Linked DNA regions of Homo sapiens: region 2 is linked to region 1. The links come from fine-mapping of genetic effects on gene expression. A gene starts in region 1. The other region holds a variant in brackets. All regions are shown on one strand. Distances are from middle to middle.

The links. PIP is the estimated chance that this variant, and not a neighbour inherited with it, causes the effect.
Region 2: its variant is the best candidate, but not a certain one, in a credible set for the expression of CXCR1 in whole blood (TOPMed, PIP 0.68).

The regions. Positions count from the first base shown.
Region 1 is chr2:218,164,433-218,169,819 of GRCh38, forward strand. It overlaps CXCR1 (C-X-C motif chemokine receptor 1), which reads right to left and starts at 2,530. Exons shown (of 2, transcript NM_000634.3): 1 at 2,476-2,530; 2 at 1-812. The coding sequence starts at 779.
Region 2 is chr2:218,093,493-218,098,879 of GRCh38, forward strand. No RefSeq gene overlaps it. Among named protein-coding and RNA genes, the nearest start is that of RUFY4, 27 kb to the left of the region's middle. The variant T/C (reference allele first, on the strand shown) is at 2,952.

The sequences.
Region 1 (5,387 bases):
AGGTTGTAGGGCAGCCAGCAAAGCAGGAAGATGAGGACGACAGCAAAGATGACCCTCATGGCTCGGTGCTTCTGCCCCATGTGGGCCTTAAACAGTGTACGCAGGGTGAATCCATAGCAGAACAGCATGACAAACAGCGGCACGATGAAGCCAAAGGTGTGAGGCAGGATCCGCAACACCATCCGCCATTTTGCTGTGTCATTTCCCAGGACCTCATAGCAAACTGGACTGGAATTGTTTGGATGGTAAGCCTGGCGGAAAAGGAAGAAGGGCAGGGACAGATTCATAGACAGTCCCCAGCAGCCAAGACAAACAAACTTGACCAAGTGACGCTTCTGGGTCAGTGTGCGTGTGGCATGGACAATGGCCAGGTAACGGTCCACACTGATGCAGGCCAACAGCAGGATGCCACTGTAGAAGTTGACTTCCTTCAGGAGTGAGACCACCTTGCACAGGAATGTGCCAAAAATCCAGCCATTCACCTTGGAGGCGGCCCAGATGGGCAAGGTCAGGGCAAAGAGTAGGTCGGCCAAGGCCAGGTTCAGCAGGTAGACATCAGTGACGGAGCGGCCGACCCTGCTGTATAAGATGACCAGCATCACCAGGGAGTTTCCCAGCAGGCTCAGCAGGAACACTAGGGCATAGGCGATGATCACAACATACTTGTTGAGTGTCTCAGTTTCTAGCATACAGGGGCTGTAATCTTCATCTGCAGGTGGCATGCCAGTGAAATTTAGATCATCAAAATCCCACATCTGTGGATCTGTAATATTTGACATGTCCTCTTCAGTTTCAGCAATGGTTTGATCTAACTGGAAGGTTAGAAGGAAGGAAATGTGATTTAGTAGCTCGGATTCAAGGCATTCTCATCAATGATGTGAGAGCAGTTACTGGGATATCCTTGGCTTCCCTGTTGGTTTGGCAATGAGAGCTCTCCTTCCTCCTTTGACTCCAACCTGGTCTTCTTCGGAGGTTGGCTTCCCAGTGTTCTCCACCTTCCACAACTCTAAGGCCTGGCCTGAGTGTGGGGTAAGATGGAATATGGGGAAAACACCTTAGCCCTAGCTCAACCTACAACTGCCTCCTCTCAGCCTATGTCTCTACCTCTGTCCCTCTTTAGCCTTCTCCATCCTCAGCTGTGTCTGTGCATTTGGATGTGGGGACCAGGTTGGTCTTAGACATTCAGGGAAGGGCCAGCATTAAGCAAAATGCAAGAAGGCAAACCTGTTCCCAGGTGTCCCCTTCTACTATTTCTATTCCTATGTTCTCCCTGATTCTTGTTTACCCTCCTTAAAATCTACTGGGGGAAGGAAGTGATAACAACACATTGCATTAAACTGTATATTTTAAGCCTTCTTTAAATGAGGAGCACATATTTTGTTCCTCTGTCTAAAGGAGTTTTAAGTATTTGAGAAGATAAAGTCTCCATCTTGGTCCCTGAAACCCTCCACCCCTGAAAAAATCCACAGAATCATTCAAGAGTTTTCAAATATATTTCCTATTGTGAAATAGTTTACTGAAATAAGATCTTCCCAGAAGCCCAGTATGTGAAGCAGATAAAAGCTGAGCCACTGTGGGGCAGAGTGTGCTAATCTCCGAACCCAGATGGCCCCTAAAGAGCCCCTCAAAGCTCCAGGACTCTCCAGAGAAGTCTGAAAGCCTTTGGAAAGTCACCGAGGTTGGTTGTAAAGACACCTAGCATCCAGTCTTCATTCCATCCTGATTCTACCATTAATAAGTTTCGTGTGTAATCCCAGCCCTTTGGGAGGCCAAGGCAGGCAGATCATGAAGTCAGGAGTTCGAGACCAGCCTGACCAAAATGATGAAACCCCGTCTCTACTAAAAATACAAAAAAATTAGCTGGGTGTGGTGGCGTGCACCTGTAATCCCAACTACTCAGGAGGCTGAGGCAGGAGAATCACTTGAACCCGGGAAATGGAGGTTGCAGTGAGCCGAGATCGTGCCACAGTACTACAGCCTAGGCGACAGAGTGAGACTCCATCTCAAAATAAATAAATAAATAAATAAATAAGTCTCATGACCTTGAGTGGGGTCTCGTACCCCTATAGATTTCAGTCTTCTCATCTGCAAATCGAGGAAGACAGAATCATCCACCTCTCATTTGCTGCCAGGCCTGAGGGTGTATGATGAGTCCACTCAGATCCACACATTTTAGTGTGTTCCCTCCCTACCAGTATTTGCATTTTCACTGAAGACAAAGTCTTAAGGTGAAGCAATAAACATCAAATTGGGGAATGGTCAGCCTCTTCCCACAAAAGGGCAAGGTATAAAAAGAGGGGATGAGGAGGCTGTCCTCTTCACCTGCTAACTCCATGTATGAGTGGTGGTCACAAGAGAGGAAGCGGGCAGCAGAAATCCTCAGCTCCCACAGAAATGAATACATTTTCCAAAATAAAGTCAAGCCAAGCAGCCCTACCCCACAGAAAGTCCTAGCAAACAGAGGTGGCTTCCTACCTGAAGCACCGGCCAGGTGTGTCCAACAGTAGGAGCTGCAGTCAGAGATCAGAGTGACTTAACAGCTAGAGGGCACTTGATGAATAAACGGAAATAAGGAAACCACATCAGATGACACCTCCCTTCTGAGCCCCACCCATGTCTACATTTGGGGAAGAACAGTTTAAGTCAAGGGATCACAGACTTGTGATTAGAGACTGCCAGGGTCCATATGACCAAGTGGGGGTCCCAGGTGTGAAGCTGGGGTTGAGGGTCCATTATCTGAATTCTCCACTCTATGGATGATCATTTTTATTATTTTCCTTTTCTTGAATTTATTTCCATTTGTTTATTCCTAAATTCCCTAGTATATCACCTGTGGAAGCTTGCAACTTCCTGACCAAGTATAAAGGGCGAAGGATTTGACTTACAGCAGAGACTTCAGAAGGAGTCCCCCATAGGAGGGACTTGGGGGCAATCCAGTGGGAAAGAGGAGGAGGACTGCGCTTGAGTTGTGTTTGAACAGCAGGCACTCAATCTCTACTTATTTTGCAGGCTTCTTTGAGGTGGCCTAGCTCGGATTCAAGGCATTCTCATCAAGGATGTGAGAGCAGTTACTGGGATATCCTTGGCTTCCCTGTTGGTTTGCCAACGAGAGCTCCCCTTCCTCCTTTGCCTCCAACCTGGTCTTCTTTGGAGGTTGGCTTCCCAGTGTTCTCCACCTTCCACAACTCCAAGGCCTGGCCTCAATCTCTACTTATTTTTCAGGCTTTTTGAGGGTATTTGAATGGAACACAAACCCTCCTTTGCCGCCAGCCACTCTTTCGCACAATCACTGCCAATGACCAGTTGGTTTAAATGGCCCTGAGGCTGACGGCATAGGCCACTCCCAGAGTCTGGCTGGTTAGCAGAGAGACCACAGAGCTGGGGCAGTCCATGAATGGAAGAGCTGTGGTCAAGGTCACTGCAGCCCCCATCTCAGTAACGGAGAATGGCTTCTCTGGGAACCCACCTTAGCTGCCTCCAGCAGCTAATGGCTGTCCCCTAGCTTGAGTCTTCTGGCACCTTCGTCACTTCTCCATATAACATGAACCCTGCTGTGAGGCATTTACAAGTCAGCCCTCTTCTAGCTTGGGAGCCATGAGACAGCAAGAACCTTCTTCAATTCATGTTTATGTTCTCTTTCAGGGAATATAGTAGGTGCTCAATCAATGGTTGTGGAATAAATGAAGGGAGACATTTCTCCTGTGATTCATGGACCATAAGTCACCACCACGATTCAGTGTCTATTGCTTTTGGCTACACACTAAAGTCACTGGTATGCCTGATAGCTTCACTTCCACACAGCCCAGTTGGTCTGCCTGGCATTGCTTCTTTCCAACCTTCCTCTAATGTTTGGAGCTAATGCCAGTCTGTGCAAGTATAAATCCTGCCCTACCACAAATGCCAAATTTACCATGCCATGGATTCCTACAGTTCTGCACTGGAAAGAATTTTTTTCTTTTTTTAAGAGACAGGCTCTCACTGTGTTGCCAAGGCTAGAATGCAGTGGTGTGATCATAGCTCAGTGTAACCTCAAATGCCTGGGCTCAAGCAATCCTCCCACCTCAACCTCCTGAATAGCTGGGACTACAGGCAAGAGCCACTACATCTGGCTTTCTTTTTTTATATTATATTTTTATTTTTATTTTTTATTTAGTTATTTATTTATTTGTAGAGAAAGGGTCCTGATATACTGCCCAGGCTTATCTTGAACTCCTAGCCTCTAGTGATCCTCCTGCCTTTGCCTCCCAAAGCACTGGGATTACAGGCATAAGCCACCATGCCCAGCCGGCAAGCCTATTTTTTAAGCTAAGTTGTGCTTTCCTCCTGGGCTCTTTTATCATTCATAGATGGTAACAGGAAGTGTAAGGGGACAATAGCCACTCATGCTTTGCTTTTACTGATGTTGGACTATTGTGCTCTAACGCCTAGACTAGAAAGGAGTCAAAGATGGGGTAGTCCCAGGAGGTGGGAGACTCCCTCTATTAATCATCTAGGGAAAATCAGCCCCAAGGGCAGAAAATAGTCACTGGGGACACAGGAGAAAAAAGACGGGGGCCTAGACTGCAAAACACCTGCCTATACTCAAGAAAGACCCTGAGGCCGGGAGAAGGATAGTTTTTGCCACAAGGGGGCAGCAGTTGCTAGACAGGGAATCCCCTGTGAGACACCCCCTTGAGAAAGACCAGGGCCAAGAGCAGGTATATTTAACACCGTATGTTAAGTTCTTCTTGGTGTATAGTTCCCTTCTGCTTTTCCTAAACCCTCAGTAAGTCGGTTCACTATTCCAGTCTATTTCAAGGAATCACTGAGGGGTTAGGGAAGAGGCTGGTCTCCTGGAGCCCGAGGAGTGAAGGGGAGCAGCCCTGCTGCATGAGTGTGGTGAGGGCAACAGCAATGCTGGGGTCTCCAGGAGAAGTTGCATCTGGAGGACAAGGGTGGAAAGAACCTTTCACTTCGCAGTAGGACGAGCATTTCACTGAAGGAGGGAGAAAGCACATATAGATGAGTTTAGAATAAAATTTTACCCACTTCAAAATGTTCCAGCAAGTCAGCCCACCCAACCTATCTTCTATACCTCACTTCCCACTTATAACTGTGCCCTCTTAAAATGGCCTAGAATGTTCCTGCTGAGAAGCATTTTTCCATTCCATGTAGAGCTCCTAATGCCACAAAGAAAGCTGTGACAGGTGCAGCCCGAATGCCAGTCAACTGGCAAAATGTAGTATCTCTTTGGGTGACATCTTCTTACCACTCTGTTTTAAACATGATGACTTCTGCACAGACCATGTGAACAGCACAATGTGGCTGTAAGAACATCTATTTTGTCCCTGCATCAGCCTTATGCCAGCTTCAGCATCTCTTCTCATTCCTCCAGAAGAATCCACTTG
Region 2 (5,387 bases), 71 kb before region 1:
AGGAGGATGAGGAGCAACTAACAGAGCGAAGCATCATTCCAAGTGTTTATCAGTATAGACTCATTTAATCCACATAACAACCCCATGTAGGAGCTGCTCTCATTATATCCACTTCACAGATAATGAAACTGAGACCCAGTGAGATTAAATCACTTGACCAAAGTCCAGGACTAGGTAGATGGATTCTAACTCACACAGCCCAGTCTGGAACCCACAACTTTGCATGACCATTGCCTTAGGTGAAGTGAGAGAGAATAAAGTATTGCCTAACACTCTCAGTGAAGATGGTGAGGAGGAGATAGTCAGGAGTGTTCTTAAGGAGAGGAAGAGTAAGGAGCAGGTACATTTCTGGTTTGGCAGATGATTGAACAAGGAACCACTCAGGAGAAAGACGTGTCAGGAAATACAATGAGATTAGTTTTCTACATGCTGAATTTGCAAAATCTGTAGGCCCTCAGGGAGATTTAAGGAGATAATTGCATGTCAGAGTTTGGAGCTTAGGGGAGACACTTGTTGGGAGCAGTAGCTATGGGAGACTCTGGCACATGTCGGATGGCAGCTGAAGCCATGAAAACCAGTGGACTCACCAAGAGGGGGCAGTAGAGTGAAAAGAGAAGAAAACCAAAGTAGAATCCTCAGGAACCTCAATATTTGAGGAATAAGTTAAGAAATAGAGCAATAAACAAGACAAGAGAGGTCAAGGGGAATAGAGGAGAATGGGTTAGTGGGATTCAGTGATATAGAGATCAAGTAAGACCTGAACGGTAACTTTCCACCATAAATAAAGATGAAAAGCATACAGCAGGCAGGAAGAAAATATCTTAACATAATTGACAAATATTCAAAACATAATTATATAAAGAGCTCCTACAAATCAGTAACAAAATCAATCAATAACAAAATAACAATCCAAGGCTGGGCATGGTGGTTCACGCCTGTCCCAGCACTTTGGGAGGCCGAGGTGGGTGGCCAGGGATTCGAGACCAGCCTGGCCGACATGGCGTGAAACCCTGTCTCTACTAAAATTACAAAAATGACCCAGGAGTGGTGGTGAACACTTGTAGTCCCATCTACTCGGGAGGCTGAGGCATGAGAATGGCTTGAATTTGGAAGGCAGAGGTTGCAGTGAGCCAAGATTGCACTCCAGGCTGAGCAACAGAGTGAGACTCTGTCTCCAAAAAAAAAAAAATTTTATTTCTTGCCATGCGCAGTGGCTCATGCCTGTAATCCCAACACTTTGAGAGGCAGAGGCAAGAGAATCACTTGAGGCCAAAAAAAAATAACAAAATAACAATCCAAAGCAAAAGGGAAACAGATAAGAATAACTAATTCAGCTGGGCCCAGTGGCTCACACCTGTAATCCCAGATATACAGGAGGCTAAGATGGCAGGATCACTTGAGGTGAGATATATACATATATATGATATAGTAGATATATCTTTTTTATTAAGAAAAGAAGGAAGGAAAACATGTTTGTATTTGCATAGAGAGAATTCCAGGAAAATGTACACACCAAGTTGTAGACAGTAGTTATCTGAGGAAAAGATATGGGTGAACAGAGGAACGGAAGAGAGACTTTCCAGCTGTGCTTTATATGCTTTTGTGCTTTTTTATTGCTTGTATTCTTTACAATATGCATGCTTTGTTTTGTCATATTAAAAGTTTTGTGTGTTTGTGTGTTTCTTTTTTGTTTCAATAGTTTTGGGGTACAGGTGGTTTTCTGTTACATGGATAAGTTCTTTAGAGGTGATTTCTGAGAGATTTTTATGCACCTGTCACCCAAGCAGTGTACACTGTACCCAATATGTAATCTTTTATCCCTCACCTCCCTCCCAACCTTCTTCCCTGCATCACCAAAATCTGCTATATCACTCTTAGGCCTTTGCATCCTCATAGCTTAGCCCCCACTTATAAATGAGAACATATGATATTTGGTTTTCCATTCCTGAGTTACTTTACTTAGAATAACGGCTTCCAGCTCTATCCAAGTTGCTGCAAAAGACATTATTTTGTTCATTTTTATGGCTGAGTAGTATTGTATGGTGTATGTAGGGAAAAGAAAGAGAGATCAGACTGTTACTGTGTCTATGTAGAAAAGGAAGACATAAGAAACTCCATTTTGACCTGTACCCTGAACAACTGTTTTGTCCTGAGATGCTGTTAATCTGTAACTTTGCCCCAACCTTGAGCTTATAAAAACATGTGTTGTATGGAATCAAGGTTTAAGGGATCTAAGGCTGTGTAGGATGTGCCTTGTTAACAAAATGTTTACAGGCAGTATGCTTGGTAAAAGTCATCGCCATTCTCCGGTTTCGATAAACCAGGGGCACAATGCACTGCAGAAAGCCGCAGGAACCTCTGCCCTGGAAAGCCGGGTATCATCCAAGATTTCTCCCCATGTGATAGTCTGAAATATGGCCTTATGGGATGGGAAAAACCACACTGTCCCCCGGCCCGACACCCGCGAAAGGTCTGTGCTGAGGAGGATTAGTAAAAGAGGAAGGCCTCTTGCAGTTGAGATAAGAAGAAGGCCTCTGTCTCCTGCCTGCCCCTGGAAACGGAATGTCTCAGTATAAAACCCGATTGTACATTTGTTCAATTCTGAGATAAGAGAAAAACTGCCCTGTGGCAGGAGGCGAGACATGTTGGCAGCAATGCTGCTCTGTTATTCTGAGATGTTTGGGTGGAGAGAAGCATAAATCTGGCCTATGTGCACATCTAGGCATAGTATCTTCCCTTAACCTTATTTGTGACACAGATTCATTTGCTCACATGTTTTCTTGCTGACCTTCTCCCCACTATCACCCTGCTCTCCTACCGCATTCCTCTTGCTGAGATCGTGAAAATAGTAATTAATAAATACTGAGGGAACTCAGAGACCAGTGCTGGTGTGGGTCCTCCGTATGCTGAGCGCCGGTCCCCTGGGCCCACTGTTCTTTCTCTATAATTTG[T/C]GTCTGTGTCTTATTTCTTTTCTCAGTCTCTCATCCCACCTGAAGAGATATACCCACAGGTGTGGAGGGGCAGGCCACCCCTTCAGGTGTATATAAACCACATTTTCTGTATCCACTCATTGGTTGATGGGCATTTAGGTCGGTTCCATATCTTTGCAATTGTGAATTGTGCTGCTATAAACATGTGTGTGCAAGTGTGCTTTTCACATAATGACTTCTTTTCCCTTGGATAGATACCCAGTAGTGGGATTGCTGGATCAAATGGTAGTTTCACTTTTAGTTCTTTAAGAAATCCCCACACTGTTTTCCATAGTGGTTGTACTTTGCATTCTCACCAGCAGTGTAAAAGTGGTCTCTTTTCACCACATCCATGCCAACATCTATTGTTTTTTTGACTTTTGAATTATGGCCATTCTTGCAGGAGTAAGGTGGCATCTCATTCCAGTTTTCATTTGCATTTCCCTGATGATTAGTGATGTTGAGCATTTTTTCATGTTTGTTGGCTGTTTGTATATCTTATTTTGAGAAATGTGTAATCATGTCCTTTGCCCACTTTTTGACAGGATTATTTGGTTTCTTCTTGCTGATTTGTTTGAGTTCCTTGTAGATTCTAGATACTAGATTCTAGTCCTTTGTCAGATGCTTATTTTGCTGATTTGAGTTCCTTGATTCTGGATACTAGTCCTTTGTCTGAATACACAGTTTGCTAATATTTTCTCCCACTCTGGGCTGTCTGTTTACTCTGCTGGTTATTTCTTTTGCTATGCAGGAGCCTTTTAGTTTAATTAGGTCCCATTTATTTATTTTTGTTTTCATTGCATTTGCTTTTGGGATCTTAGTCATAAATTCTTTGCCTAAGCCAATATCCAGAAGAGTTTTTCCAAAGTTATCTTCTAGAATGTTTATGGTTTCAGGTCCTAGATTTAAAGTCTTTGATCCATCTTGAGTTGATTTTTGTATATGGTGGGAGATGGGGATCCGGTTCCATTCTTCTACATGTGGTTTCCCAGCACCTTTTATTGAAATGTCCTTTACTCAATTTATGTTTTTGTTTGTTTTATCAAAGGTCAGATAGCTGCATTTGGCTTTATTGCTGGGTTCTCTATTCTGTTCCCTTAGTCTACATGCCTATTTGTATACTAGTACCATGCTGTTTGGTAATTGTAGCCTTGTAGTATAATTTGTAGTCAGGTGATGTCTTCAGATTTATTCTTTTTGCTTAGTTTTGCTTTGGCTTTGTGGCCTCTTTTTTGGTTCCATACAAATTTCAGGATTTTTTTTCTATTTCTATGATGACTGATGATGGTATTTTGATGGGAATGGCATTGAATCTGTAGATTGCTTTGGGCAGTATGGTCATTTTCACAATATTAATTTTTCCATCCATGAGCATGGGGAGTGTTTCCAATTGTTTGTGTAATCTATGATTTTTCAGCAGTGTTTTGTAGTTTTCTTTGTAGAGATGTTACACCTCCCTGGTTAAGCGTATTCCTAGGTATTTTATTTTATTTTTTGCAGCTGTCATAAAAGAGATTGAGTTCTTGATTTGATTCTCAGCATGGTCGTTGTTGGTAGATAGCAGTGCTACTGATTTGTGTACATTGATTTCATAACCTGAGACTTTACTGAATTCATTTATCAGATCTAGGAGCTTTCTGGATGAGTCTTTAGGGTTTTTTAGGTATACGATCATATCAGCAGTGAACAGTGACAGTTTGACTTCCTCTTTTCCAATTTGGATGCCATTTATTTCTTTCTCTTGTCTGATTGCTGTGGCTGGGACTTCCAGTACTATGTTGAATAGGAGTGGTGAACGTGGGCATCCTTGTCTTATTCCAGTTCTCAGGGGGAATGTTTTCAACTTCTCCCCATTCAGTATGATGTTGGCTGTGGGTTTGTCATATAATGGCTTTATTACTTTGAGCTAAGTCCCTTCTATGCCTATTTTGTTGAGGGTGCTGGATTTTATTAAATGCTTTGTGTCTATTGAGATGATCATATGGTTTTCCTTTTTAATTCTATCTATGTGATGTATCACATTTATTGACTTGTGTATGTTAAATCATCCCTGCATCCCTGGGATGAAACCCATTTGATCATGATGTATTATATTTTTGATGTGCTGTTGGATTTGGTTAGCTAGTATTTTATTGAGGATTTTTGTATCTATAGTCATCAGGGGTATTGGTCTATAGTTTTCATTTTTTGTTATGTCCTTTCCTGGTTTTGGTATTAGGGTGACACTGGCTTCATACAGTGATTGGGGTGTGGGGGGGAATTCCTTCTTTCTTTATCTTTTGGAATAGTTTCAGTAAGACTGGTACCAATTCTTCTTTGAATGCCTGGTAGAAATCAGCTGTGAATCCATCTGTTCCTGGACTTTTTTGGGTTGGCAATTTTTTATTACTGATTCAATCTCACTGCTTATTATTGGTC